2 separate regions of the Homo sapiens genome follow, and region 2 is linked to region 1. The links come from fine-mapping of genetic effects on gene expression. A gene starts in region 1. The other region holds a variant in brackets. All regions are shown on one strand. Distances are between the middles of the regions. Region 1 holds the start of MAPK8IP2 (mitogen-activated protein kinase 8 interacting protein 2). Region 2 holds the start of LOC124905149 (a long non-coding RNA gene).

What was found. PIP is the estimated chance that this variant, and not a neighbour inherited with it, causes the effect. A credible set is the group of variants that fine-mapping cannot tell apart.
Region 2: its variant is the best candidate, but not a certain one, in a credible set for the expression of MAPK8IP2 in subcutaneous fat (GTEx, PIP 0.71).

What each region holds. Positions count from the first base shown.
Region 1 is chr22:50,591,589-50,606,535 of GRCh38, forward strand. MAPK8IP2 (mitogen-activated protein kinase 8 interacting protein 2) reads left to right here and starts at 9,205. Exons shown (of 12, transcript NM_012324.6): 1 at 9,205-9,295; 2 at 10,201-10,306; 3 at 11,635-11,910; 4 at 12,038-12,131; 5 at 12,253-13,476; 6 at 13,780-13,855; 7 at 13,974-14,146; 8 at 14,237-14,346. The coding sequence starts at 9,231. CHKB-DT (CHKB divergent transcript) reads left to right here. Exons shown (of 4, transcript NR_110536.1): 4 at 3,603-3,693. RefSeq lists a silencer at 8,615-8,794 and an enhancer at 9,584-10,084.
Region 2 is chr22:50,629,069-50,644,015 of GRCh38, forward strand. LOC124905149 (a long non-coding RNA gene) reads left to right here and starts at 2,426. Exons shown (of 2, transcript XR_007068161.1): 1 at 2,426-5,630; 2 at 6,475-6,938. RefSeq lists enhancers at 6,194-6,710, 6,711-7,225, 12,435-12,998, 12,999-13,563, 14,285-14,786 and 1 more. The variant G/T (reference allele first, on the strand shown) is at 6,078.

The sequences.
Region 1 (14,947 bases):
AGCCTAGGCAAATAGTGAGACCCTGTCTCTACAAAAAAATAAAAAATTAGCCAGAAACGGTGGTATGCACCTGTAGTCCCAGGTGCTTGGGAGGTGAGAGAATCACGTGAGCATGGGAGGTTGAGGCTACAGTGAGCCGTGATCATGCCGCTGCACTCCAGCCTGTGCAACACAGTGAGACCCTGTCTCTAAAGAAAAGAAAAAGAAAGAAAATGTGTGCAAAACCCACAAAACTATAAAGAATAGTCAAGCAGTTTGAAAAGAACCAAATGGAAGTTCTAAAAGGAAAGTTTTAATTTAGTTCAAATTTTAGTTGAATTTTAATTTCAACTAAATTAAAAACTTAGTATGCATGTTTAACAGAAGATTATAAATAACCAAAGCGAGACTTCATGAGCTAAAAGATAAATATGAATACAGTATACAGAATGCTGCCTGGAAAGACATAGATTTGGAAAACCTGGAAAAAGGGTTAAGAGACATAAAGGCTAGAATAGGAAAATCCAACATGAGCCTAATTAGAGTGCCAGAAGGAGAAGAGATGGAATGGAGCAGAGGAAATATTTGAAGAGATAATGGCTATGAAATTTCTAAACTAATGAAAGTCACATAATTGAGAAATTCATATAAATTTATATAATTGAGAACCTCATGCAGAAAAAAATACAAAATAAACCCACACCTAGATAGACCACATTGAAACTTCAGAACACCAAAGACAAAAGCGTCCTAAATGCAGCTGGAGATGCATGGAAAATGACCTTCAAGGGAGTGACTGAGAGATGATGTTTTCTAGCGACAAGGAAAGCCAGAGGAGGACAATGGACGAGACCTTCGAGGTGATAATGGAAACTAATGACCCAGAATTCTGTATCCTGTAAAAATATCTTTCAGGAACCAGGACAAAATGAAGACATTTTCGGACAAACTGAGTTTACTACGGAAGATTCTCATTAAAGAAACATTTAAAAGGTGTAAGGAATTGGTATCACAGGGTGATCTGACAAGGAAGAAGGAATGAAGGATATAGAAAGAGGTAACATTTGGGTAAATCTAGTAAACATCAATGGCTTAAAGCAACAATAACAATTCCTATGGGTCTTGAAAAGAAAAATAATAGCCAGGCACAGTGGCTCACACCTATAATCCCAGTGCTTTGGGAGGCTGAGGCAGGAGGATTGCTTGAGCCCGGGAGGTCGAGGCTGCAGTGAGCCAAGATCATGCCACTGCACTCCAGCCTGCGTGACAGTGAGACTCTGTCTAAAAAACCAGAAAAAAAAAAAAGGAAAAATAAAGAATATTAAAATGCATAATAATAAAATTTAAGTTGGGACTGGAGTAAACAGAGTTAAATACTTCTCGGGTCCTTGTATTGTTCAGGAAAAGGGTAAAACTATTGATTAACTTTACGATTTGATAATTTAAGTGTGAGTGTCACAATTAGCAGGATGCCTTAGATTGGATTCCTTCAGAAGAAGTAGCTAAAACGAGGATTCACATGCAAGGAGTTTGTTTGAAGCTGCAGGAAATAAGGTGGGTGGGTGAGAAAGTGAGGCAGGGGAGGGAAGAAGTGCCATCCTGCCAGCTGCCCGGTCTCTTATCCTGCGGCCCGTGTAGCAAGATTGTACTTAGAACTTAGCTATTAGATCCAGAGGATGAAGACAGCTTTTGAGGCTGCACATGGTGGCTCACGCCTGTAATCCCAGCACATTGGGAGGCCGAAGCGGGTGGATCACTTGAGCCCAGGAGTTGGAGACCAGCCTGGAAAACATGGTGAAACCTTGTCTCTACAAAAAAAAAAAAAAAAAAAAAAAAAACCAAAAATTAGCCAGGCATGGTGGCGGGTGCCTGTAGTCCTAGCTACTTGGGAGACTGAGGTGAGAGGTTTGCTTGAGCTTAGGAGGCGGAGGTTGCAGTGAGCCAAGATCACATCCCTGCACTTCAGCCTGGGTGACAGAGTGAGACCCTATCTCAAAAAAAAAAAAAAAAAAAAAAAAGACAGTTTTTGTTAATCAAATTAGGTAATTATGCTGGGAGTTCCAAGATGACAAGTTTGTGGGTGTAAGAGGCCTGATAGCCGGCCGGGCGCGGTGGCTCACTCCTGTAATCCCAGCACTTTGGGAGGCCGAGGTGGGCGGATCACAAGGTCAGGAGATCGAGACCATCCTGGCTAACACGGTGAAACCCCATCTCTACTAAAAAATACAAAAAATTAGCCAGGCGCGGTGGCGGGCGCCTGTAGTCCCAGCTACTTGGAAGGACGAGGCAGGAGAATGGTGTGAACCCGGGAGGCGGAGCTTGCAGTGAGCCGAGATCGCGCCACTGCACTCCGGTCTGGGCAACAGAGCGAGACTCCGTCCCCCCGCCAAAAAAGGCTTGGTAAATCTCTGTTCAGGGTCTCCAGCAACCTATCAGGGAGTCTCCCTGTCAGGCAGAGCCCTGTCATCACCAACTTTAGTGCATCTTTGGGAGGAACTGGGGAAATCTGGGAAGCGCTCACCAGACATTCTGCAGCTTGATAGCTCCTGGCATGCTTTGCTGGGCCTGTTCCCTTTGTGCTCATCGCAGTAAATGGAAAACTCTCCAAAATTTGTATGTCAGAGAGAGATTTGTCGAGGCTGCAGTGCTGTCCTCCTTGGGGCTATGACTCTGCTGCAGTGCAAAGACTTTCATGAAAGTGTATAATCCTGTTGTTTTTTCAGTTATTATAAAAGTGTCTTTGGGCATGTACGTTCTATGAAGGAGTCTAGTGAGACATTCAGATTTCAGAGATTTAAAAAATTTCCTGGCAAGGCGTGGTGGCTCATGCTTGTAATCTCAGCACTCTGGGAGGCCGAGGCAGGCGGATCACTTGAGTTCAGGAGTTCGAGACCAGCCTGGCCAACATGGTGAGACCCCATCTCTACTAAAATACAAAAATGAGTTGGGTGTGGTGGTACACACCTGTAGTCCCAGCTACTTGGAAGGCTGAAGCAGGGAGAATGGCTTAAGCCTGGGAGGTGGTTGTTGCAGTGAACTATGATTGCACCACTGCACTCCAGCCTGGACGACAGAGCAAAATCGTGTCTCAAAAAAAAAAAAAAAATTCCTGATAGTAGCAATCTATTTAAAAACTTCAACTGATGCATGTTATAATCATCTTCTGCACTGATAGAAATCTGTTTTCTGAAAGGTATAATTATGTGTGAGATTTCTTTCTTAAACCAGAAGGATTTTTTTTTTTTTTTGAGACAGAGTCTTGCTCTGTCGCCCAGGCTGGAGTGCAGTGGCGTGATCTCGGCTCACTGCAAGCTCCGCCTCCCAGATTCATGCCATTCTCCTGCCTCAGCCTCCCGAGTAGCTGGGACTACAGGCGCCTGCCGCCACGCCTGGCTAATTTTTTGTATTTTTAGTAGAGATGGGGTTTCACCGTGTTAGCCATTGTGCTTGATCTCCTGACCTTGTGATCCGCCTGCCTCGGCCTCCCAAAGTGCTGGGATTACAGGGGTGAGCCACCGTGCCCGGCCTACTGTCACTTTCATTAAGGCATAACAATGTTGTAAATGCCATGATTTTGGATGTCCTGTACCATCAGGTGAGAATTACCATTTTCTTTAACATAGGTTATGCTTGTTTGCTGATGGAAATGATCCAGAAGAGAAGGACAAGTTGACGATTGAGAGGGTTAATGTCAGGTAAGAAACTTGAGTGGACATTGAGGAAAGAGCGAGGTTCAGTGGACTGGAGGTTTGTGGTGGTTTCATGACACGTGGACTGGAGATTTGCAGTGGTTTTATGACACATGGACTGGAGGTTTGTGGTGGTTTCATGACACATGGACTGCAGATTTGCAGTGGTTTTATGACACAGCTCCTAAGTTCTTTGACACTCTTCCCATGGAGGGGTAGGGTCTGTGACCCCCCTCTTGAAGCTGGGTAGGCTTGCAACTGCTTTGGCCAATAGTCACAGCAGCAGTGATGCTGTAGGACTTACAAGGTTAGACCAGAAAAGGGCATGCCCTCCAAGGATCCTTACTCTGATGGGAACCAGCCATCATGTAGAAACTCTACCCTTGGCTGGGTGCGGTGGCTCACGCCTGTAGTCCTAGCATTTTGGGAGGCCGAGGTGGGCGGATCACCTGAGGTCAGGAGTTCCAGACCAGCCTGGCCAACATGGCGAAGACCCGCCTCTACTAAAAATACAAAAAAAAAATGAGCTGGGCGTGCTGGCAGGCACCTATAATCCCAGCTACTCGGGAGGCTGAGGTAGGAGAATCACTTGAACCCAGGAGGTGGAGGTTGCAGTGAGCCAAGATCACACCACTGCACTCCAACCTGGGTGACAGAGCGAGACTCTTGTCTCCAAAAAAAAAAAGAAAAGAAAAGAAACTACCCTGAGACCACGATGCAGGAGAGCCCAGTGGATATGCTGGTGACAGCCGCAGCAGAGCCCCCAGCTCACACTCAGCATCCACTGCCAACCTTCTGAATGAACCATCTCAGACCTCGAGCCAGGCTTACCTCCAACTGCAACCAAACCTCAAAAGAGACCCAGGCAAGAACTTCCCATTGGAGTCCTTCCTGAATTTCCACCCTCAAAACAAACAATTGTAAATAACAACTTAATTGTTTTAATCCACTAAATTTGAGGATAATTTGTTACACAGTAATAGTAATTGAAGCACATTTCTTATGGAGTTAAAAAAAAAAAAAAAGGCTTGACACAGTGGCTCACGCCTGTAATCCCAGCACTTTGGGAGGCTGAGGTGAGTGGATTGCTTGAGCTCAGGAGTTTGAGACCAGGCTGAGCAACATGATGAAACCCTGTCTCTACAAAAAATAAAAACATTAGCCAGGTGTGGTGGCACACATCTATAGTCCAACTACTCTGAGGAATGAAGTGGGAGAATTGCTTGAACCTAGGAGGCAGAGGTTACAGTGAGCTGAGATTGCACCACTACATTCCTGCCTGGGTGACAGAGCAAGACCCTGTCTCAAAAAAAAAAAAAAGTGGGTATTGTAGTAATGCAGCAAGAGACCAAGAAAAGTAGGAGGTAGTGATCAGAGACCTGGCTGCATAAAAATGAAGATTCGGGAAATGGTGGCGTTAGGACTTCACCATGGTGAAGGTAGAACTCTTAATTTTCATCTTTATTAAATGTGTCTGTTTGCAGTTTTAACCATTGGCATATTTATTTTGTGTTTGTGATTTCTGTGAAATATGAGTACAATAAATACTGATAGTTTGCATTTGTTTTCTAATCTCTCAGAAAGTTGTCAGAAAATGTTCTCTGACTTTTTAGAATTGCTGTGGTCAGGACTGTGGAAGCTGTTGCGATTCCAACTCTCCCTTCTAAGTCCAATCAATTTTGTGCTTTGTAATGTCTATGCCATTCGTGCACCATAGAGGGAAGAAAGCGTTAAAATGGTCGCGTCACAACATCTTGATTTGTCATTGAAGGAGAAGGAGTCTGGAAGGACGCTGACAACGGGTGGTGGTCAGGAAGGAAAACCCAGTGCCTGTGGCCCAGAGGCTGGAGGAGGAACTTCAAGGAGGGATGTTCAGCTCCCTGTGGACCCCCATTTGTTCATCCATACAATGATGCTCTGAGGAGCACACAAGGAAGGTGCAAATTTGATAAAATGTGCATGATGTAAGGAGCATAAACCCCCTCAGGAAAGAGTTGCTGCCTTTTCACTAATGTATCCCTGAGCTGCACAGAGCAGCCCTGGGGGACTGGGAGGACATGTCCCCGGTGTGAGGAGCAGGGGAAAGGTGAGCCTTAAATGATCACCAACAAACAACAGGGCCTGTGTCTGGGGCTTACACCACGACATGTGGTCCTCGCAGCACCATTGCTCAGAGGAAGAAACCAAGATCTCGAGGAACTGAGTAATTTGCCCACGTTCAACAAGTTGGTGCAAAATGAAGAGTGGCTCCCGTATTTCAGACTTTAAGGCCGACGATCTTCCATCTGTGCTCTGGGGGCAAGATGGGAGGTCCACAGATAAAATTGCGGGCGGTATCCCCCATCTCATGGTCTTTACGCTCATGGGACCTGGGAGTGACCATCTTTTAAGAGGGAGGGAAGGAAGGGGAGAGGCTTGAGGAAGGTTTTGGGGATTAGGATCTAAGATGAAATTTGAGACTATAAGACTTCAGATTGGATGCTGTGGCTCATGCCTGTCATCTCAGCACTCTGGGAGGCCATCACCTGGGCTTGGGCCCAGGAGTTTAAGACCAACCTGGGTAACATAGTGAGACCCTGTTTTTACAAAAACAAACAAAATGCCAGGTATGGTAGTGTGCACCTGTGGTCCTAGCTACTCAGAAGGCTGAGGCAGGGGGATTCCTTGAGCCCAGGAGTTTGAGGCTACAGTGAGCTAGGGACACACCACTGCACTCCAGCCTGGGTGACAGAGTGAGACCCTGTCTCAAAAAAAAAAAAAAAAAAAAAGATTTTAAGCTTGCTGCAATTCCAGATGAAGGTAGATCCTGGAGGCACTTTGTGGGAGAGGTCACTACACTTGAGTATTAAAGACTGTTGACAGATCAGAAATCAAGGAACTGACTGACCAGGGTATTGGATGGGTCATTTATGTGGATGTCCAGATGAACCAGTTTGGTGAAAAGACTCAGGATCAAAAGCCAATCTGGAAAGTTGAGGTCAAACTCTCTGTGAAATCTGGGAAGGGATCTGGATTTTTTGGGAAAGGCAGGGAGTGGTTAATAGGCCCAGACTCCCTCAGAAATGGGGAATGTTCTTAGTGCTTCTAAAAGGGAAAAGACTGTTATGGCAAAGACCTGATGCCCCAGACTGGGTTAGAGACCATAAGCTCTCTCATTCATTCATTCACATGTCTGCTAAGCACCTACTGTTTGCCAGGCACCATGCTTGGAGCCTAGGGCTTCACAGAGAGATGACAGCCTCTCTTCTCTCCAGCCAACCCAAGTCAAGAAGGCAAGCATAAACTAGTAAATGGCTTTTTTTTTTTTTTTGAGATGGGATCTCACTCTGCCCCCCAGGTTGGATGCAGTGGTGTGATCTCAGCTCACTGCAACCTTTGCCTCCTGGGCTCGGCCAATTTTTTTTATTTTTGGTAGAGACATGTTTCCAGGCTGGTTTCAAACTCTTGAGCTCAAGTGACGCACCCACCTTGGCCTCCCAAAGTACTGGGATTACAGGTGTAAGTCACTGTGCCCAGCCAAGTAAATGCCATTCTTAGAAAAATACTGTAATTGGCATAAAATATAAATTGTGATGGGACACCAAAGAGTGCAGGTTCAATCAGGCCCTGGCCACAGGCCTCTCTCTGAGCTGGAATGGTGATACCCCCCTTCCCGACTTGCATGAGCTCCTTCTGCCATGTCGTTTCTGGTGTTTGTCACTCAAGTGCCTTGTCCTTTCCTAAGGAATAATTTTCCAGGCCAGGGGCGGTGGCTCACGCCTGTAATCCCAGCACTTTGGGAGGCCAAGGAGGGCAGATCACCTGAGGTCAGGAGTTTGGGACCAGCCTGGCCAACATGGCAAAAACCCATCTCTACTAAAAACACAAAAATTAGCCGGACATGGTGGTGATTGCCTGTAATCCCAGCTACTCGGGAGGCTGAGGCACGAGAATCGGTTGAACCCGGGAGGTGGAGGTTACAGTGAGCTGAGATCGTGCCACTACACTCCAGCCTGGGCAACAGAGCAAGTTCTGTCTCAAAAAAAAAAAAAAAAAAAAAAAAAAAAAAAAAAAAAAGAATTTTCCGCAGAACTAAGACATAAAGAAATCTTAGGGCACATAACTTTCATCAAGGGGGAAAAGGGATTGCGCTTTTGTTGAAATGCCAGCCTCCTTCTTTAGCCAATATTTAGCCAGGTGCTGTGGTTCACACCTGTAATCCCAGCACTTTGGGAGGCTGAGGCCAGAGGATAGCTGAGCCCAGGAGTTTGAGACCAACCTGGGCAATACAGAGAGAGCCGGTCTCTCTCTCTCTCTTTTTTTTTTTTTGAGACGGAGTCTTGCTCTTGCCAGGCTGGAGTGCAGTGGCGCAATCTCGTCTCACTGCAACCTCCGCTTCCCGGGTTCAAATGATTCTCCTGGCTCAGCCTCCCAAGTCGCCGGGACTACAGGCGCCCGCCACCACGCCCGGCTAATTTTTTTGTATTTTTAGTAAAGACGGGGTTTCACCATGTTGGCCAGGATGGTCTCTGGTCTCGATCTCTTGACGTCGTGATCCACCCGCCTTGGCCTCTCAAAGTGGTGGGATTGCAGGCGTGAGCCACCGCGCCCAGCCACCGGTCTCTATTTTAGAAAGAAAAAAAGTGTCCTGCAGTCTCTCCCTAGTTCTGCGCCCTCAACCCTGATCTCCCGCCTCCTCCCACAGCCACCGTCTCGAGCTCAGCTTCAACCATGGCCCTCCCCACAGGGCTCCATCCCAAGCCAGAGCGGGTCAGTTCCCTACACAGGGCCCAGCAACACGGTGCCCAAGAAAAAGTGTTTCCAGTGGGACGCATGTCGCCTCCGTGGGTGCTAACTTCTCCCAGTGCCCGTCGGTACGTCCGTCCGGCTGTGCAGTCTCTACTGAGTGCTCAAAGTCCACTTTTAGCCCCAGCCAGCATCCTCTGAGTACCTTGTGCTCGATTCTGAATCCAGCCCTGCTCGGCGACCCTCGTGCAGACGTCCCCGTGCAGCCCCGGTCAGCACCCCGTGGGGACAGCTCCGATCAGCACCCGACGGCGGACAGCTCCTCCCGCGCCTCCCGCCTCGCCCGCCACCCCGCTCCGGGCCGCACCCGGGTTAGGGTTCCTGGGGGGATCCTGGGCGCGGCGGCGCAGCTCCCGGGGCCGCCCCGGCCTCTCGCCCAGAGGAAACAGCCCACGGCGAACCCGAGGCCCGCGGACCCCGGCGCTGCCTCCTCGGCCTCCCGCCCCGCGCGGGTCCTCCAGGGCGGGGCCCGACGCCCACCCGCCCGCCCCTTCCCTCCCGCCCCTCCCCGGGAAAAATCCTCATCGCACGCCCGGCCCTTCCCCAACCAGCGCCCGGCAGTGAAGCCGCCGCCTCTCCTCCAACCAGCGTCCCCGGCCGCGTCCCTCCCCCGCCTCCCCCGCCGCCCTCCCCGCGCCGCCGCGGAGTCCGGGCGAGGTGCGCGGGGCGGACGCCGCAGGGCGTGTCACGAGGTGAGCGGGGCGGGCCGAGCGCCGGCGCGGGGCGCGGCGAGGCTCCCGCACCCCCCGCCGCAGTCGCGGGCCTCTCCCGGAGAAGATGGCGGATCGCGCGGAGATGTTTTCTCTCTCCACCTTCCACTCGCTGTCGCCGCCGGGCTGCAGGTACCCCCCTCGGCGCCCGGGCCGGGCGGACCCTCCGCTCCCTGCGCACCCCCCCGACCCCGACCCGGCCCGGACCCCCGTCCCCGCCGCCCCAGCCCCGCCGCCGGCGCGGACCCGGCCCCGGCCCCCTGCGGTCCCTGAGCCTCGGCTCGGGCGCCCCACCCCCACCCCGCTCCCACTCCCTCCATCTTCACCGCGCGTCCCCAGCCTCAGTGACCCCCGGGCCCCGCCGGGATTCTGAGCCGCGCCCGGCCTGGACGGCTGACCTGTCAAGGGTGGAGGCCCTGGGCCGACCCTCTGCGGGGGAGGATGCGGGCGGGATGCGGGCACACCCTCCCGGCGCGGCGTGTCCCGGTGGCCTTGGCCTCTTTCAGTGGACGCCAGACCTGGCCGATAGGGCCCGGCCGGGAGAGAGTGGAAATCAAGCCCGGAGCCCTGCGGGAAGGGACTGGGGTTGGGAGGACGCTGGGCCTCTGGGTTTAGGCCTCACTCCGCCGGAGAGGGGGAGACAAACAGGCCAGACTCTCTTCCCAGAGCAGGAGCGACCCCTCCCCATCTGCCGCTGCCGCGTTGCAGCTCCCCCTCCCCTGCTCTGCAAGACCCTGACCCCAGGGGCCTGGAGCTGCGAGTGGAGGGAGGAGAGGCTGCTGGCTCTCCAGGGAGGCGGGGTGGGAGGGGTGGGGGCAGGGTTGGCTCCTCCGGGCAGGCCTGGCTCAGATGGGGGAGGGGATCCACAGGCGAGCAGAGCTTGGGGGTCAAGATGATGGCAGGATGTGTTCCGAGAGCTGGGGGCTGTGGAAACCACTGGGTGTAGGAGCTGACGCCTCCCTCTGCCCCTCCTCAGGGCCAGTTGCCAGGCAGGGAGTCCAGGGTTGGTGGCTCTCTGACCCTGGTCTCCTTTCCAGGCCTCCCCAGGACATAAGCCTGGAAGAATTTGACGACGAAGATCTGTCTGAGATCACTGATGACTGTGGCCTGGGCCTCAGCTACGACTCAGACCACTGTGAGAAGGTGGGAGAAGAGTTGGGGACACAGATCCAGCTCAAGGGAGGGCCTCATTAGGTTCTTCTTAGCGTTCACTTGGGGTTTTAGGGTGGGTGTGAGCTCAGCCTTGAACCGGGGACTCCTCTGATGGCTCCTCCCCACTTAACCCTTGAGGTTTCCTTGGTATCAACTCTCTCTTATTCCAACACATTGCAGGCCTCCACGCAGGGCCTTCCCCAGCATTCTCCCCGACCCCATCGGTGGCCAGCCCGGGGCAGGGAGGTGCTCCTTTGCTTTGGGTGCCCTCTGTCCTCAGATCACTCCCAGAAAGATCTAATCCCTGGCAGCTGCCATCACAACCTTGTCCCCTCTGCAGCCCTGTGCCCTCGTCTGCAGCTCCCATCTGTCTGTTTCATGTCTCCCCCTGCTGAAATCTTTTCTCGTCCATCTCTTGCTTCTCCTCCTCCCTGTCTCTCCACATTTCTGCTTTCATTTATTGAAGAACATTTCTGAGCAACTGCCATGTGGCAAGTACTGGGGGCTTCTGGGTGCTGGGAGTGGAACAGGACAGCTGCTCTCTGGAGCTGCAACTTAGTAGGGGAGAAAGACTTGTAAGGGACAATGGCTGCCCACGTGTCAAGGGCTGCATTCCAACAGGGACATAAGTTCCACGAGGGGGAAGGGAACCCAATCCACACTGAAGGAATCAGGGAGAATTTCCAGAGGAAATGTCAACCATGCCCTGAGGTTAGCAGAGCCAGGCAGATGGGGTAGGTAGGAGGGAATGGAGGAGAGGAAGTGCCAGCATGGGGAATAACTGTGCCAATGGCCCTGGGGTTGGCGCAAAGTTGGTGAATCCTCAGAGTGCAGAGGCTGTCTCTCCATTTCTGCATCTGTTTGATGTTTACTGAACATCCGCTGAGCCCCAGGTCTTGTTCTTGGGGGCGGGTGCAACAGTGCATAACATGGACATGACCCTGCCCTGGTGGGGCTTGCAACAGACCAAAAACCATGTCCAGTAACTGTAAGTTGTGTTAAAACGCTGCGAAGGGAACACAGTGCTGGTGTCAAATGTGATGGGGTTCTGCAGTTAGATGAGTCTGAAAGTGGGGCTGGGGCTGCTCTGAGAATCCCTGTCATTCAGCTGTAGAGTTTAGGCCCTTCCCAAGAACTGGAGTGATCCCAATGTGTGTTAGGCAGATTTTGAAAACATCGCCCTGTAGACAGAGGGGCAGAGTGAGCTGGAAGGGGCTCTCCTTTGACTGATGCTCCCCGATTTCCCTTCTCCTAGCACCTGGGCCCCTGGGCTACTGCTGCCCTCTGGCCCAGCCCTGCTATCTCCCTCCGTCCTGCAGGACAGCCTCTCCCTGGGGCGCTCGGAGCAGCCGCACCCCATCTGCTCCTTCCAGGATGACTTCCAGGAGTTTGAGATGATCGATGACAATGAAGAGGAGGACGATGAGGACGAGGAAGAGGAGGAGGAGGAGGAGGAGGGAGATGGGGAAGGCCAGGAGGGAGGAGACCCTGGCTCAGAGGCACCTGCCCCCGGGCCCCTTATCCCCTCCCCTTCCGTGGAGGAGCCCCACAAGCACCGGCCCACCACCCTCCGTCTGACCACACTGGGGGCCCAGGTGAGTGCCCGGACCCACAGCTCCCTGGAGCTGAGCCTGGGTTCATAGCACCTGGGCTGCAGCCAGCCCTGCTCACCCCCTGGGAGCTGGCCCTCCTCAGGACCGCCGTCATGTATCTCCACCCCAGGACTCCCTAAACAACAACGGAGGCTTTGACCTGGTGCGTCCGGCCTCCTGGCAGGAGACAGCGCTATGCTCACCCGCCCCGGAGGCCCTCAGAGGTGAGGGGTGGTGGGCCCGCGGGGCGCGGGGAAGCGGGGGAGGAGGGCAGGGAGGATGGACTGGCTGCTGGAAGAGGCCTGGGTGGTGCAGAGAGGGTGACCCCACCTCCCTGCCCAGCAGAGCTCCCGGGCCCCCTCCCTGCCACGGACACCGGGCCCGGCGGGGCGCAGTCGCCAGTGCGCCCGGGTTGCGACTGCGAAGGGAACCGGCCTGCGGAACCCCCTGCGCCAGGGGGGACTTCGCCCTCCTCAGATCCCGGCATCGAGGCTGACCTGAGAAGCCGCTCGAGCGGCGGCCGCGGGGGACGTCGCAGCAGCCAGGAGCTGTCCTCGCCCGGCTCCGACTCGGAGGACGCGGGCGGCGCGCGCCTGGGGCGCATGATCTCGTCCATCTCGGAGACGGAGCTGGAGCTGAGCAGCGATGGCGGAAGCAGCAGCAGCGGCCGCTCCTCGCACCTCACCAACTCCATCGAGGAGGCCTCGTCGCCCGCCTCGGAGCCGGAGCCCCCGCGCGAACCCCCGCGCCGCCCCGCCTTCCTGCCCGTGGGCCCCGACGACACCAACAGCGAGTACGAGTCGGGGTCGGAGTCGGAGCCGGACCTCAGCGAGGACGCGGACTCGCCCTGGCTGCTCAGCAACCTGGTGAGCCGCATGATCTCCGAGGGCTCCTCGCCCATCCGCTGCCCCGGCCAGTGCCTGTCTCCTGCGCCGCGCCCGCCCGGGGAGCCCGTGTCGCCGGCCGGCGGGGCCGCCCAGGACTCCCAGGACCCCGAGGCGGCCGCGGGGCCCGGCGGCGTGGAGCTGGTGGACATGGAGACGCTGTGCGCGCCGCCGCCGCCCGCGCCCGCCGCGCCTCGACCCGGCCCCGCGCAGCCCGGGCCCTGCCTATTCCTCAGCAACCCCACGCGTGACACCATCACGCCGCTGTGGGCCGCGCCCGGCCGCGCCGCCCGCCCGGGACGAGCCTGCTCCGCCGCCTGCTCCGAGGAGGAGGACGAAGAGGACGACGAGGAAGAGGAGGATGCCGAGGACAGTGCGGGGTCCCCCGGGGGCAGGGGCACGGGCCCCTCGGCGCCGCGGGACGCGTCGCTGGTGTACGACGCGGTCAAGTACACGCTGGTGGTGGATGAGCACACGCAGCTGGAGCTGGTGAGCCTGCGGCGCTGTGCTGGGCTGGGCCACGACAGCGAAGAGGACAGCGGCGGGGAGGCCAGCGAGGAGGAGGCGGGCGCGGCGCTGCTAGGCGGCGGTCAGGTCTCGGGGGACACCTCGCCGGACAGCCCTGACCTCACTTTCTCCAAGAAGTTCCTCAATGTCTTCGTCAACAGCACATCTCGGTCCTCCAGTGAGTGAGAGGTGGGGAAAAGGGGGGTGGCCCAGAGGAAGGTGCAGACTCCCTGGCCCCAGTCCCAGGGTCCCCCACAGTGCCCAGGGCCACCTGAGGGTCTGGCTGTGGTCAGGGCTGGGTGCCCTCTCCCACCCAGGACATGGCATGAGGTGGCCTGCTCTGCCTCAGCTCCTTCCCGCTCGTAGGACACCTACACCGGACTGTGGAGGGGACTTGGCCTCTGCCCAAGGCCAGGCCTCTAAGCACTACTCTGACTCTGTCTCCCTGTCTCCCCCGCCTCTGTCCTGCCGGGTCTCCCAGGCACCGAGTCCTTTGGCCTTTTCTCCTGTCTGGTCAACGGCGAGGAGCGAGAGCAGACTCACCGGGCTGTGTTCAGGTACGGCCTCCCTCCTTGCTGGCGGTGGCCCCAGCCTCAGTCCCTGCCATCACGGAACGCCAGTGGACACGACCGTCAATCCCGCCCCCCTCCCCAGTGACCTCTCCCCCAACGGCAGGTTCATCCCGCGGCATCCAGACGAGCTGGAGCTGGATGTGGATGACCCTGTGTTGGTGGAGGCCGAGGAGGACGACTTCTGGTTCCGTGGCTTCAACATGCGCACGGGGGAGCGCGGTGTGTTTCCTGCCTTCTACGCCCATGCGGTGCCCGGCCCTGCCAAGGACCTGCTGGGTGAGGTCCCAACCCCGAGGGGAGGCTTTTCACCCCAGATCCTCCCCTGTGCCCCTGCCTGACCTGGGCCCTCTGTGCCCCGCTCCCCAGGGAGTAAGCGGAGCCCCTGCTGGGTGGAGCGCTTTGACGTGCAGTTCCTGGGCTCCGTGGAGGTGCCCTGCCACCAGGGCAACGGCATCCTGTGTGCAGCCATGCAGAAGGTCAGTGTGGAGGCCGGGCAAGTGCAGGCTGAGGGTCCGCTTGGCGGCCACACCAGCACTGCAGGCTGGCACAGGGCTTGAGGCTCCAAGGTCTGAGGTCTGATTTCCTCCAGGGAGGGTCTGGGGGATGCTGCAGGGGGAGCTCGGGGTGGGTACCCCAGGCCCTGGTTCAGAGGCCTGAGCAGGTGAGTCTAGGGCAGAGCACAGCAGCTGTCCCTCATCACCTCTGGGTCTCTGGGCCACAGATCTTCCAGGTGGCCCCGACTGCCATCAGCCCTTCCTCTTCCCATCTGGAATCAAGACCAGCCCTCACAGCCCCTTCCCTGGGAGCCCTCTACTCATCCACTCACTCAGTGGACGTTTAGTGAGCACCTGCCCAGGCACCAGTACTGAGGCTGAGGCTGGGGGGCAGTAGGGAGCAGGGCAGAGCAGCCCAGGGCGGGTGAGGTCTCTGTTCCTGGCTCCTGAGCCAAGCGCAGCAGCCTGCCTGGAGGAGCAGAAGGAAGATGAAGCAAGCTGACTGCAGAGAGGCGATTGCTCCTCCTGAGCCTGAGGAGTGGCCAAGGCCACACCCCTTATGTCTTCCAGAATTGCATCTCAG
Region 2 (14,947 bases), 37 kb after region 1:
TGGCCTGTTGCAGGGTTACGCTGCTGGGGAAAAACTCATCTGAGGACAACGTGATTGGGTCCTCGCTCCCTCGTTGGGCAGCCTTGGACTTAACCTTTTTGATCTTGAAGGAAAACACAATATGTCACCTCCAAATATATTTCCTTGACACGGTTCAAGACAGTTACTCAGAAGGACTGGAAATAGAAGAATAGCTGAAAAGCTGTCTTTTGTGGGGGAGATTTGCATCTGTGGAGAGAATCTACACTGATGCGGCCAGGCCTCCTCTGAGGCCCTCCTTGCCTGATCTGGGAAGAGTAACAGTCTGACGCCTTTAAAGGCCTGAAGGGAACATTCACCATCTGTTCTCTCTCAGGGCTGCTACCTGTGAGGTTTCATCTGTAGAACAAGGCCACCTTTGCTAGCCAGGCCTCCTCTGCTCTCCCTCCTGTAACCGGTCTTGCCACTGGTCACCTGATTTTCCACCATAAACTGTGGCCATACTTTGAGCCCATGTTCTTTCTGTAACCTCAAGATGGTATATAAGCTTCCGAACCCCATTGGGAGGTTGGGGTCATCACTCTGGTTCTCCCTGTGTGCATGAATAAATCTGTATGCCTTTTTTCTTACTAACCTGGCTTTTGTCAGTTGATTTTCTGTGAACTCAGAATGCAGAAAAGTTTTTCTCTAGGCTCCTACAGTTTTGGTGCAGTCGGTAGGATAACTAAAGTCACTCTCCTGGGAGCCTCCGTCAGGGGAACCCAGGAGCCGACAAGCTGGCAGAAAGAAGGGTAAGAAGGTCTTAGCAGCCAGGCTCCCGGCCTCTCTGGAATCTTGTCAAGCCGACGGTAAAAATGTCTGTTTACCTTGTTTTCCTCTTCAAAGTTTTAATGAGAGAAATGTATTTATGTGATTAGTTTTGTATTCATATTGTTTGATTGCTTTTTTTCCCCAGAAATAGTCGTCTTTCATTCTTGTCTTTCTGTGTTTTTCTGTCATAAAGAGGGTAGAACACAGGCCTAAAACCCCTGTAAACCCCGTCTTGGGGCCGTCCTGCAGGCTAGTCAGTTTTGCAGCTCTGATCGGATGCGTCTAGTTAGACAGACTTTGCTGTGGGTCCCTGAACTGAAAACTGGATGAGATTCTCCTCTCTTTTGATGTCCTTGAAAGCTTGAGTTGTGAGCGAGTGGGAATGATGCAGGCCAGGCAGACCCCAGAGTGGAGCTTAGCCAGTGAGGGTTTTGGCTTTGCCCAGGAAAGAATTCAAAGACAAGCCAGAGGTAGAAGAAAACAGCTTTATTGAACAGGTGGCGTTAGAGCTCTGTGACTGCTCCTGCAGAGCAGGGCCACCCCGTAGGCTGAGAGTAGCAGCTCAGGGCAGTTTTGCAGTCACATTTATACGCACTTTTGATTGCATGTAGATTAAAGGATGGTTTATGCAGAAGTTTCTAGGGAAGGAGTAGTCATCATTGGGTCATTGCCATGGAAAGGGGTGGCAACTCCTGGGTGTTGCCATGGCAATGGTAAACTGACATGGCACAGTGGCGGGCATATCTGACTGAAAGCTGCTATTGCCCCAACCCTGTTTTAGCCAATCCTCAACTGGGTCAACTAAGTCCCACCTCCTACCTCAGGAGCACTCTCTTGGCCTCTGCCAATCCGAGGTAGTGACTCGCAGGTCACATTTTGTGGTCAGTCTGAAAATGGTTGGGAACCCAAGACATTTAATATTTTAAGCAGCACCGTTTTTGTTCTGAATGTGTCAAGCTTTTAGTTTGTCTTAAGAAGTCCCTGCCAGGCGAGCTGTCAGAGCCCCGGCACTGGGAGTGGTGGTCAACTTGCGGGTTGGTAAAAAGAGTTTACCGACAATAGGTTTGAAAAAGGAAAGTTTGGCCGGGCATAGTGGCTCATGCTTGTACTCTCAGCACTTTGGAAGTCCAAGGTGGGTGGATCACCTGAGGTCAGGAGTTTGAGACCAGCCTGGCCAACATGGAGAAACCCTGTCTCTACTGAAAGTATAAAACTTAGCCAGGTGTGGTGGTGCGTGGCTGTAATCCCAGCTACTTGGAAGGCTGAGGCAGGAGAATTGCTTGAACCTGGGAGGCGGAGGTTGCAGTGAGCTGAGACAGAGCAAGACTGTCTCAAAAAAAAAAAGAAAAAAGAAAGTTTGCCGGGCACGGTGGCTCACGCCTGTAATCCCAGCACTTTGGGATGCTGAGGCAGGTGGATCACCTGAGGGCAGGAGTTCAAGACCAGCCTGGCCAACATGATGAAACCCCATCTCTACTAAAAATACAAAAAATTAGCTGGGCATGGTGTCGGGAGCCTGTATTCCCAGCTACTTGGGAGGCTGAGGCAGGAGAATCGCTTGAACCTGGGAGATGGAGGTTGTGGTGAGCTGAGATCATACCATTGCACTCCAGCCTGGGCAACAAGAGTGAAACTCCATCTCAAAAAAAAAAAAAAGAAAAAAAAAGAAAAGAAAGAAAGTTTATTAGAATGCTGCAGAAGAGTGCAATGAGGTGCCTCAGCAAGAGGACTGAGTACGCCGGGTGGATTTCTCCTTAAGGGCATTTATAGGCCTTAAAGTGGAGGCTTAACAGTAATTTGGACCATATTAGCCACGTAAGTCATGATAAATGATTACATTTATAGTAATTTTGGTGCCTTAATGTCAGCGACGGTTGTACAGTGAGTTTCGTCATGGTATTCTGGAGACACATAGAAATTATAGTTACTTACACGTTTTTTGGGGGAAGAAATCTGGAACCAGATGCCTGCTTTAGATAATAGGGAGGTTTAGTTACTTTTGATTTTCCCCAGATAAGGAGTTTTGCCTCGGAGGGCCTGTTTGATGTTTGATGGTCGCCAGGTGGTTTTTGCTCTCCTCAGGCCCATCCATAAGGGGCTTTTGTCATCCCAATGTTTGTTGCCTGGTCAGTCCTCAGAAAGCCCAATCCCAACAGGCCTACCCTGTGTTACAGGTTAATGGGTCTGTGACTGGCAGCCCCTGACAGATTGTGTGTTACTGGAGGCACTGTATGTACAAACACGTTCCTTAACTGTCTCTGGGAACAAGAGTCTTTTGCTGTCTTTGCCTATTCCTGGGAGTGAATTTTGGGGGCATCATTGGAACCTCCTCTTCTATGCCCTCTCTAAACCTGGAAAATAATCTTTTGGGCTTTCCATGAAGGGGCTTCTTGGATTGAGTTGCTATTGGAATAAATACATCATTGGAAATTCTGATTGTCAATAGCCAAAAGATGAATCCTTTACATTAGAAAGATCCCTAAATTAAAAAAAAAAAAAGATTTTAGAGGTCTCTCATTCTAAACAATTGCCTTATTTGTATTTGTGGGGAGATTAAAGGAAAGACACATAATAATGTTGTGGCTAGCCTTAGAAATCCTCTTCACAAAATTAAAGAGCAAAAATCTGACCTGTAACAAGTTAAAATCCTTTGTGCGCGCAAACCATTGCTTTGGATCCCTGCAGGATTCACAATGAAGACTGCTGCATCTTGGAAACTACTTAAAATTCTGTACTTTCACTACCATGGCCTGGGTTCAATTCCCAATAGAGGAACCAGTCCCTTTTGGTTTGATATTTGTGTGACTTTTGAATTCTTTCTTTTGTTTTTTTTTTGGAGACGGAGTCTTGCTCTGTCGCCCAGGCTGGAGTGCAGTGGCATGATCTTGGCTCACTGCACCCTCTGCCTCCTGGGTTTAAGCAATTCTCCTGCCTCAGCCTCTGGAGTAGCTGGGATTACAGGTGTGAGCCACCACGCCCGGCTGATTTTTTTGTGTGTGTGTATTTTTAGTAGAGATGGGGTTTCACCATGTTGGCCAGGCTGGTCTCGAACTCCTGACCTCGTGATCCTCCCGCCTTGGCCTCCCAGAGTGCTGGGATTACAGGTGTGAGCCACCACGCCCAGCTAATTTTCTTTTTTTTTCTTTTTTTTTTTTGTATTTTTAGTAGACATGGGGTTTCACCGTGTTGGCCAGGCTGGTCTCGAACTCCTGACCTTGTGATCCGGCTGCCTCGGCCTCCCAAAGTGCTGGGATTACCAGCGTGAGCCACGCACCCAGCCAACTTTTGACTTTGTGCGGAACTCATTTGTTGTTGACCCTTTCCCCCTCCACTGGCAGCTTTTGATTTCCTTTCTTTGAGCTCTTTGGGGTGGCTCTGGATGTCATCAGGACTGCTTTGCGCCTCTTTGGAGATGGCTTATGTGTCCTTGGTTAAGTCCATAGCTTTAGTTAAGGCTTATTGGTTTTGGTGAGTCACTTGGGAGGTACCTTTGGTTTTAAAAAAAAAGGTCTCAAAGCCATGGCTATCAGCTGTTGGTCTCAGCTAAAATCTGATAATAAGATATTTGAAAGGATTTTAAAAAAGAGCTCTGTGGTCAGAAGTTGGCTTAATTAAAAACAGGTGAGCTGATCTTCAAGCCATGTATCTACAGCCTTTTCTGCTTTTGGACCCTGTTTCTGGGAATTTTTTTTTCAGGTGACTGAAACCCCTTTAAATTGTGTGTTTGGTCCTTCTGTTTGGTTCCTTTGTTGGTATAATTTTGATGAGAAAAATGTAAAATTGTATTGGCCTTTTAGAACCTTAACATTTTTCCAAATTGGCTCCTCTAAGGATTGCAGTCCCATTTACTTCTACCCCTCCGTGCTCCTCCATCCCCTTTGCCATCTTTGGTACCTAATGAAGGGATCTACAAGGGACTTCTGATGACTTAGAGACCCCTTGGGGAACGCAAAGAAAGGTGCCACGCGCCCCGCTTTTGTCTTCCTTATGGGGCCTGAGGAGTCGTGGGTAGCTTCCTCTCGGGTCTAAAGCTTGGCTGTCTTTGGCACTGTGTCACTGGATCTCTTTGGCTTTGGGGGTACCAGGGATTACGTTGCACTGTGAGACAGTGCATGACCTGAGTGTGTGTGATGGCCGGCAGGTCACTGGCGAGGGCTGCCTCACAGTTTTGGAGGTGGCTGAAAGCAGTTGTAGTGAATGGTTGTTCCTGCAGTGGCTGCTTGTTTCTCTGCATGTTTAGATGAGAAAGGCACAATCTGAACACTTGGAGACTATGGAAGCACTTGGCGTCAAAGGCTGAGACTCCGTGGGCTGATTGCTGTGGGTCTCCCACCAGCCTCAGGGGAATGTCTTCATAGTGAGGTACACTGTGGAAACACTGTATGGCTTTGTCTCATATATATCTCTTTTTAGAGGGAACTCAGCATTCAGTGTAAATGTGGGATCCTTGATTTTAAAAGATCTAGATGCTCTGCCTTCCAGCTGCACCTGTTTTTCACATATTTAAATATTAGGTCCTCCAAACTGCAAATGCTTTTTTGGCCATGTTCATTAATGAGCTCTGTCCTGAGCCCAGTGGTCTAGTTCAAAAATGGAGAATAAATTAATAGCCACATATTTAAATAACATTGTTGTCCTTATAAAATCCTGTGGTGAATTTCTATGACTTTTTGTTACCTCAGCATCCATTTAAAATCTTCCTTTAACATACTAAATCAAAGCTTAAACTTTCTCCCTGTGGAATTGCTTGAACCAAGGAGGCAGAGGTTGCAGTGAGTCAAGATCGTGCCGTTGCACTCCAACCTGGGCGACAGAGCAAGACTCCGTCTTGAAAAAATTCAGTAAATAAAAATAATTTTTTTTTCTCTGTGCTTCAAGATGTAAATTTGTTGCCTTGTTTTCTCTAAAACTTGGTAAGGGCTTTGGCCGTGTGAGACAGATAAATTTTACCTTGTTCCATTTACAGAGGCACAATTTTAAGTATCCTTTTAAACTAGTGATTTTTACCCGATTCGTGGCTAAAATCTTAAAACTAAAGCTATAAAATCTTGATTTGTGTCTGTATTTTTATGTGTACATGCCTGTTTGTATATTATGTACATAGTAGCAAATTGACGTATAAATAAATAAGTGCTCATGAATGATGTAACTAAACCCAGATGCTTTTCTAGTTCATGTGACTAGTAATCTTTGGCAAATAAACTTAGTTTTAAAATTGTTGCTGCTGGGTGCAGTGGCTCACACCTGTAATCCCAGCACTTTGGGAGGCTGAGGCGGGCAAATCACGA[G/T]GTCAAGAGATCGAGACCATCCTGGCCAACATGGTGAAACCCCGTCTCTACTAAAAATACAAAAATTAGCCAGGCGTGGTGGCATGCGCCTGTAGTCCTAGCTACTCAGGAGGCTGAGGCAGGAGAATCACTTGAACCTGGGAGGTAGAGGTTGCAGTGAGCCGAGACTGCACTACTGCACTCTAGCCTGGGTGACAGAGTGAGACTCCATCTCAAAAAAAAAAATGATGCTAAAATTAGAATATCTTCAAAGTCGTCAGTCTTAAATATAATTGAGACATCTTTGCTTGGGCCCATTGGTCGGACAGGTTCAGACAGTCTCTGTTAGATGCTTTAAGGTCATAAAATTTGCTTCTGTCATATTTCTGATACTTGCTTAATTTGTCTGTGAACTTAGGTCTTTGGCTTTGAGCCTCTACATTCTGGGGTCAAGACAAGTGGACATGATGTGGCCTGGAGACATCTGTGTGTCCGCAGTACCTAAGCCCCATCCTCCCTGGCCCAGCTGTACCCCCCGGTCATGCTGTTTGTCTGCAGTGCCCGAGCCCCGTCCTCCCTAGCCCAGCTGTGCCCCCCGGCCATACTGTGTGTCTGCAGTGCCTGAGCCCCGTCCTCCCTAGCCCAGCTGTGCGCCCCAGCCATGCTGTGTGTCTGCAGTGCCCGAGCATTGTCCTCTCTTGCCCAGCTGTGCCCCCCGGTCATGCTGTGTGTCTGCAGTGCCCGAGCATTGTCCTCCCTGGCCCAGCTGTGCCCCCCGGTCATGCTGGGAGGGGTTGAGTCCTCCAGGCATTGTCTTTGTAGTAGCCCATTCTCACACTGCTAATAAAGACATACCTGAGACTGGGTGATTTGTAAAGGAAAGAGGTTTAATTGACTCACAGTTCAGCGTGGCTGGGAAGCCTCAGGAAACTTACAATCATGGCGGAAGAGGAAGCAAACACGTTCTTCACATGAGGTCAGGAAGGAGGTGTGCAGAGCGAAGAGTGGGGAAGCACCTCATGAAACCATGAGACCTCGTGAGAACTCACTAGCACAAAAACAGCGTGGGGGAACCGCCCCCTTCATCTAATCACCTCCCACTGGGTCCCTCCCACAACACCTGTGGATTTTGGGAACTACAGTTCAAGATGAGATTTGGGTGGGGACACAGCCAAACCATATCAGTCTTTAAAGCTCTGTCCTTTGTCCTGGGCTTTGCATCTTTAATAACAATTAAAATTGCTTACTTCCCATGTTTTTCACTGAAAATTAGGCTTCCTAAGAGTTAACATTGTAATTAATATATGTATTTAAAACTACTAGATATAAGAGAAACACTTCTGTATGCAAAGTTTATAAGAAAGTAGGATGTGTTTTTGGTAAGGAAGGTTATAAAGAAGGCATGAGAATGAGGTTTTTGTTAAAGGAAAAGTAATTTTGTCTAGTTTTGATGTTTTTAAAGGTTGTTTTAAATTAAAGGAATAAAAAAATGATAGATAAAACTGAATATATATAGAAAGTTTGAGAAACAAAGAATGGAACAAATTTTAAGAGGTTATTAAAGGTTTATGGAAATCTTATGTGGTCAAAGCTGATTGAGATTGAATGGATCTGTTTTTAAGTTTTTATTAAAATTAGCTTTAGTATTAATAATATGCTAATGTAAAGGTAGAATTTAGTTTTCATTTTTGAGTAAGATTTTCATGTAGTATTAATAAGAGACAGTAAAAGATTTTTGTTTACCTTTTGAGTAAACTACAAGAAAAGGAGGAGTAGGCCCGGTACGGTGGTTCACACCTGTAATCCCAGCACTTTGGGAGGCCGAGGTGGGTGGATCACCTGAGGTCAGGCGTTTGAGACTAGCCTGGCCAAGATGGTGAAACCCCATCTCTACTAAAAATACAAAAATTAGCCAGGCGTGGTGGCGCCTGCCTGTAGTCCCAGCTACTCAGGAGGCCGAGGCAGGAGAATCGCTTGAACCCGGGAGGCGGAGGTTGCAGTGAGCTGAGATTGTGCCACTGCACTCCAGCCTGGGCAACAAGAGTGAGACTCTGTCTCACAAAAAAAAAGGAGGAGTAGAGAGTTTGCCTCATGCTGTCTTTATTTATTTATTTATTATTTTGGAGACAGGATCTTGCTGTGCCACCCAGGCTCATCTCGAACTCCTGAGCTCAAGCAGCCCTCCTGCCTTGGTCTCCCAAAGTGCAGGGATTACAGGTATGAGCCACCACGCCTGGCTCAAAATTATAATTATTATGTTAAATTGTTGTATGTCACACAAAAAAACAAATCTCCTTGTGAATTGCATCTGTAACCATCATTAGTCTAAGTCATCTGTCATCCACAGTCAATTACTGTTTTACTTTGATTCTTTTTAAAAAGCAGCTTATAATTAGCTACAGTTCAAGACTTGCTTCTTCCTCAAGGAAACTCATGTAAAGTACCCAGACAAGTACTTTTTTTTTTTTTTTTTTTTTTTGGTTTTTGGTTTTTTTTTTTTGAGACCGATCTCGCTCTGTCGCCCAGGCTGGAGTGTAGTGGCGCGGTCTTGGCTCACTGCAAGCTCCGTCTCCCGGGTTCATGCCATTCTCCTGCCTTAGCCTCCTGAGTAGCTGGTACTACAGGCGCCCGCCACCACACGTGGCTGATTTTCTTTGTATTTTTAGTAGAGATGGGGTTTCACTGTGTTAGCCAGGATAGTCTTGATCTCCTGAGCCCACGATCCGCCCGCCTCGGCCTCCCAAAGTGCTGGGATTACAGGCGTGAGCCACCATGCCCGGCCTCAAGATGCTTTTAAAAGTCTAATCTGAGATTCCTTATGAAAAAGTTCTGGCAAAGCCAACTTTAAAAGAGGTTGAATGGCCAGTCACTATTATTACTGTACTTTATGCAAATAATCAGGCCAATTATAATAAGACTAAAACTTATTTTGTAAATCAGTTGTTCTTACTCTGATTTGTCTTTTGTGGAAAAGGGAGACTGGAGAGAGAAAAAATATGTTTTAGAAGAAAACTATAGTATACCTGTTATTAGAGTCCAGACTGACTGTTGACACCTGTTATTAGAGTCCGGACTGACTGTTGACACCTGTCACGAGAGTCCGGACTGACTGTTGACACCTGTCACAAGAGTCCGGACTGACTGTTGACACCTGTCATTAGAGTCCGGACTGACTGTTGACACCTGCCGTGAGGAGAGTCCGGACTGACTGTTGACACCTGTTATTAGAGTCCGGACTGACTGTTGACACCTGTTATTAGAGTCCGGACTGACTGTTGACACCTGTTATTAGAGTCCGGACTGACTGTTGACACCTGTTACGAGAGTCCGGACTGACTTGTTTTTGAGTTGTTATCATTTGCCTATAGTTTGAACTGAATCCTGCATTCTTTCCTAGCTCCAAGTCTCTAAACTAATGCTTTCCAGTTTTTCTCCCATTTTTCTGATTTAAAATCACTGGAAATTAAAATGGCTTTTCTTGAAGCCCTGCAACTGAAGCTAAATTACTTATAATCTTCAGGAGAAATCATCACAGCGACTTATGTATAAATAGCCTTTGTGCCTGTTGATATATGGACTATTCAGAAAGTTCACTTGAACACCCAATTAGAACTACAATCCAGAAAAATCTGTCAAATTGCCATTGCAATCTGAAGATGCTCCAGATGCCTCAGATTGAGGAGAGCTAGAAAAGCTAGTCTATGGATGACACCAGACATTCACCGTTTTTTTTCTTCTGTTTCCATAGAATTGTATCTTGTTAAAGATCTGTTTGTGTGAATTATATACGAGGTCCCAGCCCATCTGCAATGCCACTTCTTGGAATAGGATACAGCTGTTTAACTGAGCTGATCTAGTCTCAGGACTAAGAGACGGATTCAAGAAAATATGGCATGATACATATCTATTTTTCAGAGACAGGGTCTCACTCACTCACCCACAAAGTGGTGTGATCACAGCTCTCTGCAGACTTGACTTCCCAGGCTCAGGTCATCCTGCTGCATCAGCCTCCCAGGTAGCTGGGACCACAGACACAAACTACCATGCCTGGCTAATTTTTTATTTTTTGTAGCAATAGAGTCTCCCTGTGATGCCCGGGCTGGTCTGAACACCTGGGCTCAAGTGCTCCTCCTGCCTCAGCTTCCCAAAGTGCTGAGATTTACAGCCATGAGCCACTGTGCCCTGCCAGGATGACATTTAAATTTGTCTTTTTCTGCTTATCCCAATTTCTTTTTGCCCGCCTCTGCCTGTCTCTTATCTAACAACCTCTAACTCAAATCTCTTCAAAGCTATCAACTTTCTTTTTATATGGGCAACTTTCTGAAAGTCTCAAAGTGGGGACTGAAGGAAACCAAAATATTTCGCCCCAAAATGTATTTCCATGGCTGGGCATGGTGACTCACGCCTGTAATCCCAGCACTTCGTGAGGCCGAGGTGGGCAGATCACCTGAGGTCAGGAGTTTGAGACCAGGCTGGCCAACATGGCGAGACCCCGTCTCTACTAAAAATACAAAAATTAGCCAGGCATGGTGGTGCATGCCTGTAATCCCAGGGAGGCTGAAGCAGGAGAATCACTTGAACCCAGTAGGTGGAGGTTGCAGTGAGCTGAGATTGCACCACTGCACTCCAGCCTGGGTGACGGAGTGAGACTCTGCCTCAAAACAAACAAACAACAACAACAAAAATATTTCCTTGACACGGTTCAAGACAGTTACTCAGAAGGACTGGAAATAGAAGAATAGCTGAAAAGCTGTCTTTTGTGGGGGAGATTTGCATCTGTGGAGAGAATCTACACTGATGCGGCCAGGCCTCCTCTGAGGCCCTCCTTGCCTGATCTGGGAAGAGTAACAGTCTGACGCCTTTAAAGGCCTGAAGGGAACATTCACCATCTGTTCTCTCTCAGGGCTGCTACCTGTGAGGTTTCATCTGTAGAACAAGGCCACCTTTGCTAGCCAGGCCTCCTCTGCTCTCCCTCCTGTAACCGGTCTTGCCACTGGTCACCTGATTTTCCACCATAAACTGTGGCCATACTTTGAGCCCATGTTCTTTCTGTAACCTCAAGATGGTATATAAGCTTCCGAACCCCATTGGGAGGTTGGGGTCATCACTCTGGTTCTCCCTGTGTGCATGAATAAATCTGTATGCCTTTTCTCTTACTTTGTCAGTTGATTTTCCGTGAATCTCCTGAGGGCAGAGGGCAAGTTTTCCCTTGGCCTCTATAGTCTCCAGTTTGTTTAACAGTCAAATGGAAATGACAGACGCGTACTGAACGTTGACCTAAAAGAAAGAAGCTGAAGCAACATTAACATGAGCGGAGGGTTTATTTGGGCCAAGCTTGAGGATTGCAACCTGGGAGCAGAGATTCTATTTGCCCTGAATATACACTCTGATTGGCAACAGTTACAGTAGTTTTTCGAAGGAAAAGAGGTGGCTGGGCGCGGTGGCTCACGCTTGTAATCCCAGCACTTTGGGAGGCCAAGGCGGGTGGATCACTTGAGGTCAGGAGTTCGAGACCAGCTGGGCCAACATGGCGAAACCCTGTCTCTACTAAAAATACAAAAATTAGCCAGGTGTGGTGGCGTGTACCTGTAATCTCAGCTACTTGGGAGGTTGAGGCAGGAGAATTGCTTGAACCTGGGAAGTGGAGGTTGCAGTGAGCCGAGATTGCGCCATTGCACTCCAGCCTGGGTGCCAGAGTGAGACTCCGTCTCAAAAACAAAACAGAAAAAACAAAAACAGATAACATTGGCTATACATTGTTCTTTCTTTTTGAGACAGAGTCTCGCTGTGTTGCCCAGCCTGGAGTGCTCACTGTGCCCTCCGCCTCCCGGGCTCAAGTGATTTCCTGTGCCTCAGCCTCCTGAGTAGCTGGGATTTACCGGTGTGAGCCATCATACCCGGCCTACATTGTTCGTTGTGTCACAAATTCCAAGAACATGAAGATAATGGTGAGGCAGCTGGTCTGGAACAAAGCGTCCTGAAACAATTGTCCCCAGCCATTTTTGCAGAAGTGTGGGATTACTGAGGCCCCACACTCATCCCTCTTGGCCGTACACCCCGCCTAGTTCCGACTCTGCTCTGAGCTACTTCTTTTTCTCATCAGTGTAAGAGAGAGCCCCAGAGGGGGCTTCGGTGAGGATTTTATTCTGTGTGGCTGAGGGCCCCAAGGTTGCTGTAGTAATTGGGCCCTGCCAGGGTATCCCTCTCCATAGCCCCTGCCCTGAACAGTTTCCACTGCAGGTGTCCCCAGGACAGCTCCCTCAGGGTGGCCCCTCCTAGGGTGGCTCCCCAGGGCAGCTCCTTGACCTTGCGTTTCTCCACAAGCTCAGGTTGCCCCTCGGGGAGGAGCAGGACCTGGTCTCCTGATGGGAAGCGCTTTCCCTGGTCACTGACCCTGCAGCCAGTGGGAAGGTGGACAGGGCTCTGGAAGAGCCTCTGGGGACCAGGGTGAGGGTTCAGGACTCGACTTCCACTGAAGCCCAGCTGTGTGTGGGGAGCTGGCATTTTCCTGAGGAAACATGAAAGCTCCAAGATAGAGGCCATGTGGGAGCAAAGTTTGAAGGGACTCCCAGAGATGGGGTGGGAAGGGGCTGGGCTTGAGGCTGCTGCTGACCTTGTGGAGAGCAGGAGGTGCCAGTCTCTGCCAGCGAGCCCCTTGATGTTACATTCCAGTGTGGTGTCTGTGCCTGTGTGTGGCGGGGCTGGGGGCAGGGGTGCGCTGCTGGTGCTTCCATCTGGAGCCAGAACAGAAAGCTGCTCGGTGGCCCAGAAATCTTTGAACCTGTAATTGGAGCTATCGCAGCTGGTTGGCGCTGTGAATTGGAGTTTAAAAGGAGACAATCAAAGGCACTTTATTCTCTTTCAACTGGAAGCTGGGAACTACCCCAGGACCGGCCCCTTCTTCCCGAGAAGAGCCTGCTTAGGGTTGTAGTGTTACGCAAATGGTGGCCCCTTCCCCCTGGGCTCTGGAGGCCGCTCAGGGGTTGCCCACGTGACAGCTGCCTCGGCCCAGCCCTGACCTCCCGGCCTGGAGGAGGGGATGTGTGTGCTGCCAGCTATGTTTGTTCAAAGCCAAGCTCTGCAGGCCATCCTGCCTTTTGGAGATGTGAGTTCTTTTTCTGCATTGACAGAGCCCCAATTGGAGGCAGCCTGCTGGGGTTCGGGAAGTGGCTCTGGACGCCTGGGGCATTGCTAATTTGGGACTAACACCCACAGTCAGGAGAGGGCCTTGAAATGAGGGGCATGGGTCTTGTCTTTTTGCACCTTGGACAAGGGATGGAAGAAGCCTCTGCATGGGGAGGGTGGGGAGTTGAGCTGCTTCAGCGGGAACACGTGGCCTGAGTGGAGGGATTCTGCAGCAGTTCATGAGACCTGCTGACATGGGGATCCACCTTAGGCCCCCTGGTGGCCTTCATCTTCCCCACCCCTGTGGGCCTGCTCCATCCTTGTCCCATCAACCACCTTGAGGCCCTCTGGTTGGTCCCAACTCTGAAAGGGCTCTGCTGGTCCCAGCTGGGCAGATACATGACCTGGCCAAGGGGGTGGCAGGTACTGACTGGGAGGTTCTTGTGGAACCCACTGGCAGGGAGAGGAAGGCAGGAGGTTCCCAGAAAGAGGGGCAGCCCTTTTTTTTTTTTTTTTTGAGACGGAGTCTCGCTGCGTCGTCCAGGCTGGCTGGAGTGCAGTGGCGTGATCTCGGCTCAATGCAAGCTCCGCCTCCCGGGTTCACGCCATTCTCCTGCCTCAGCCTCCTGAGTAGCTGGGACTACGGGAGCCCGCTACCACGCCTCGCTAATTTTTTAATATTTTTTTAGTAGAGATGGGGTTTCACCGTGTTAGCCGGGGTGGTCTCAATCTCCTGACCTTGTGATCCGCCCACCTCGGCCTCCCAAAGTGCTGGGATTACAGGCGTGAGCCACTGCGCCCGGCTTGGGGGCACAGTCTTGAGCAGATGAGGACGGAATCCACTGCCCACAAGAACCGTGGCAGGTGTGAGGTAGCTGCTGTGTGGCAATGAAAGCTTCTCTGCTTGGGCAGACGGCAGCTCCTGAACCTTCTCCGGAGCCCATCTGTGCACTTCCTTGTAAAATCCAGTTTTAGTAAGGACCTGATCACCCTTTATGTAACCACCCAGTGAGTTCACTTTGCCCGCTGCCTGCACAGAGCCGATTTATCAAGACAGGGGAATTGCAATAGAGAAAGAGTAATTCACGCAGAGCCGGCTGTATGGGAGACCAGAGTTTTATTATTACTCAAATCAGTCTCCCCGAGCATTCGGGGAGCAGAGTTTTTGAGGGTAATTTGGTGAGTGGGGGAAGGCCAGTGAGTTGAGAATGCTGATTGGTTGGGTTGGAGACAAAATCATGGGGAGCCGAAGCTGTCCTCTTGTGCCGAGTCAGCTGCTGGGTTGAGGCCACAGGATCAGATGAGCCAGTTTATGGATCTGGGTGGTGCCAACTGATGCATCAAGCGCAGGGTCTGCAAATACCTCAAGCGCTGATCTTAGGAGCAGTTTAGGGAGGGTCAGAATCTGCACTGATCTTAGGAGCAGTTTAGGGAGGATCAGAATCTGCACTGATCTTAGGAGCAGTGTAGGGAGGGTCAGAATCTGCACTGATCTTACTTAGGAGCAGTTTAGGGAGGATCAGAATCTGCACTGATCTTAGGAGCAGTGTAGGGAGGATCAGAATCTGCACTGATCTTAGGAGCAGTTTAGGGAGGGTCAGAATCTGCACTGATCTTAGGAGCAGTTTAGGGAGGGTCAGAATCTGCACTGATCTTAGGAGCAGTGTAGGGAGGGTCAGAATCTGCACTGATCTTAGGAGCAGTTTAGGGAGGGTCAGAATCTGCGCTGTTCTTACTTAGGAGCAGTTTAGGGAGGATCAGAATCT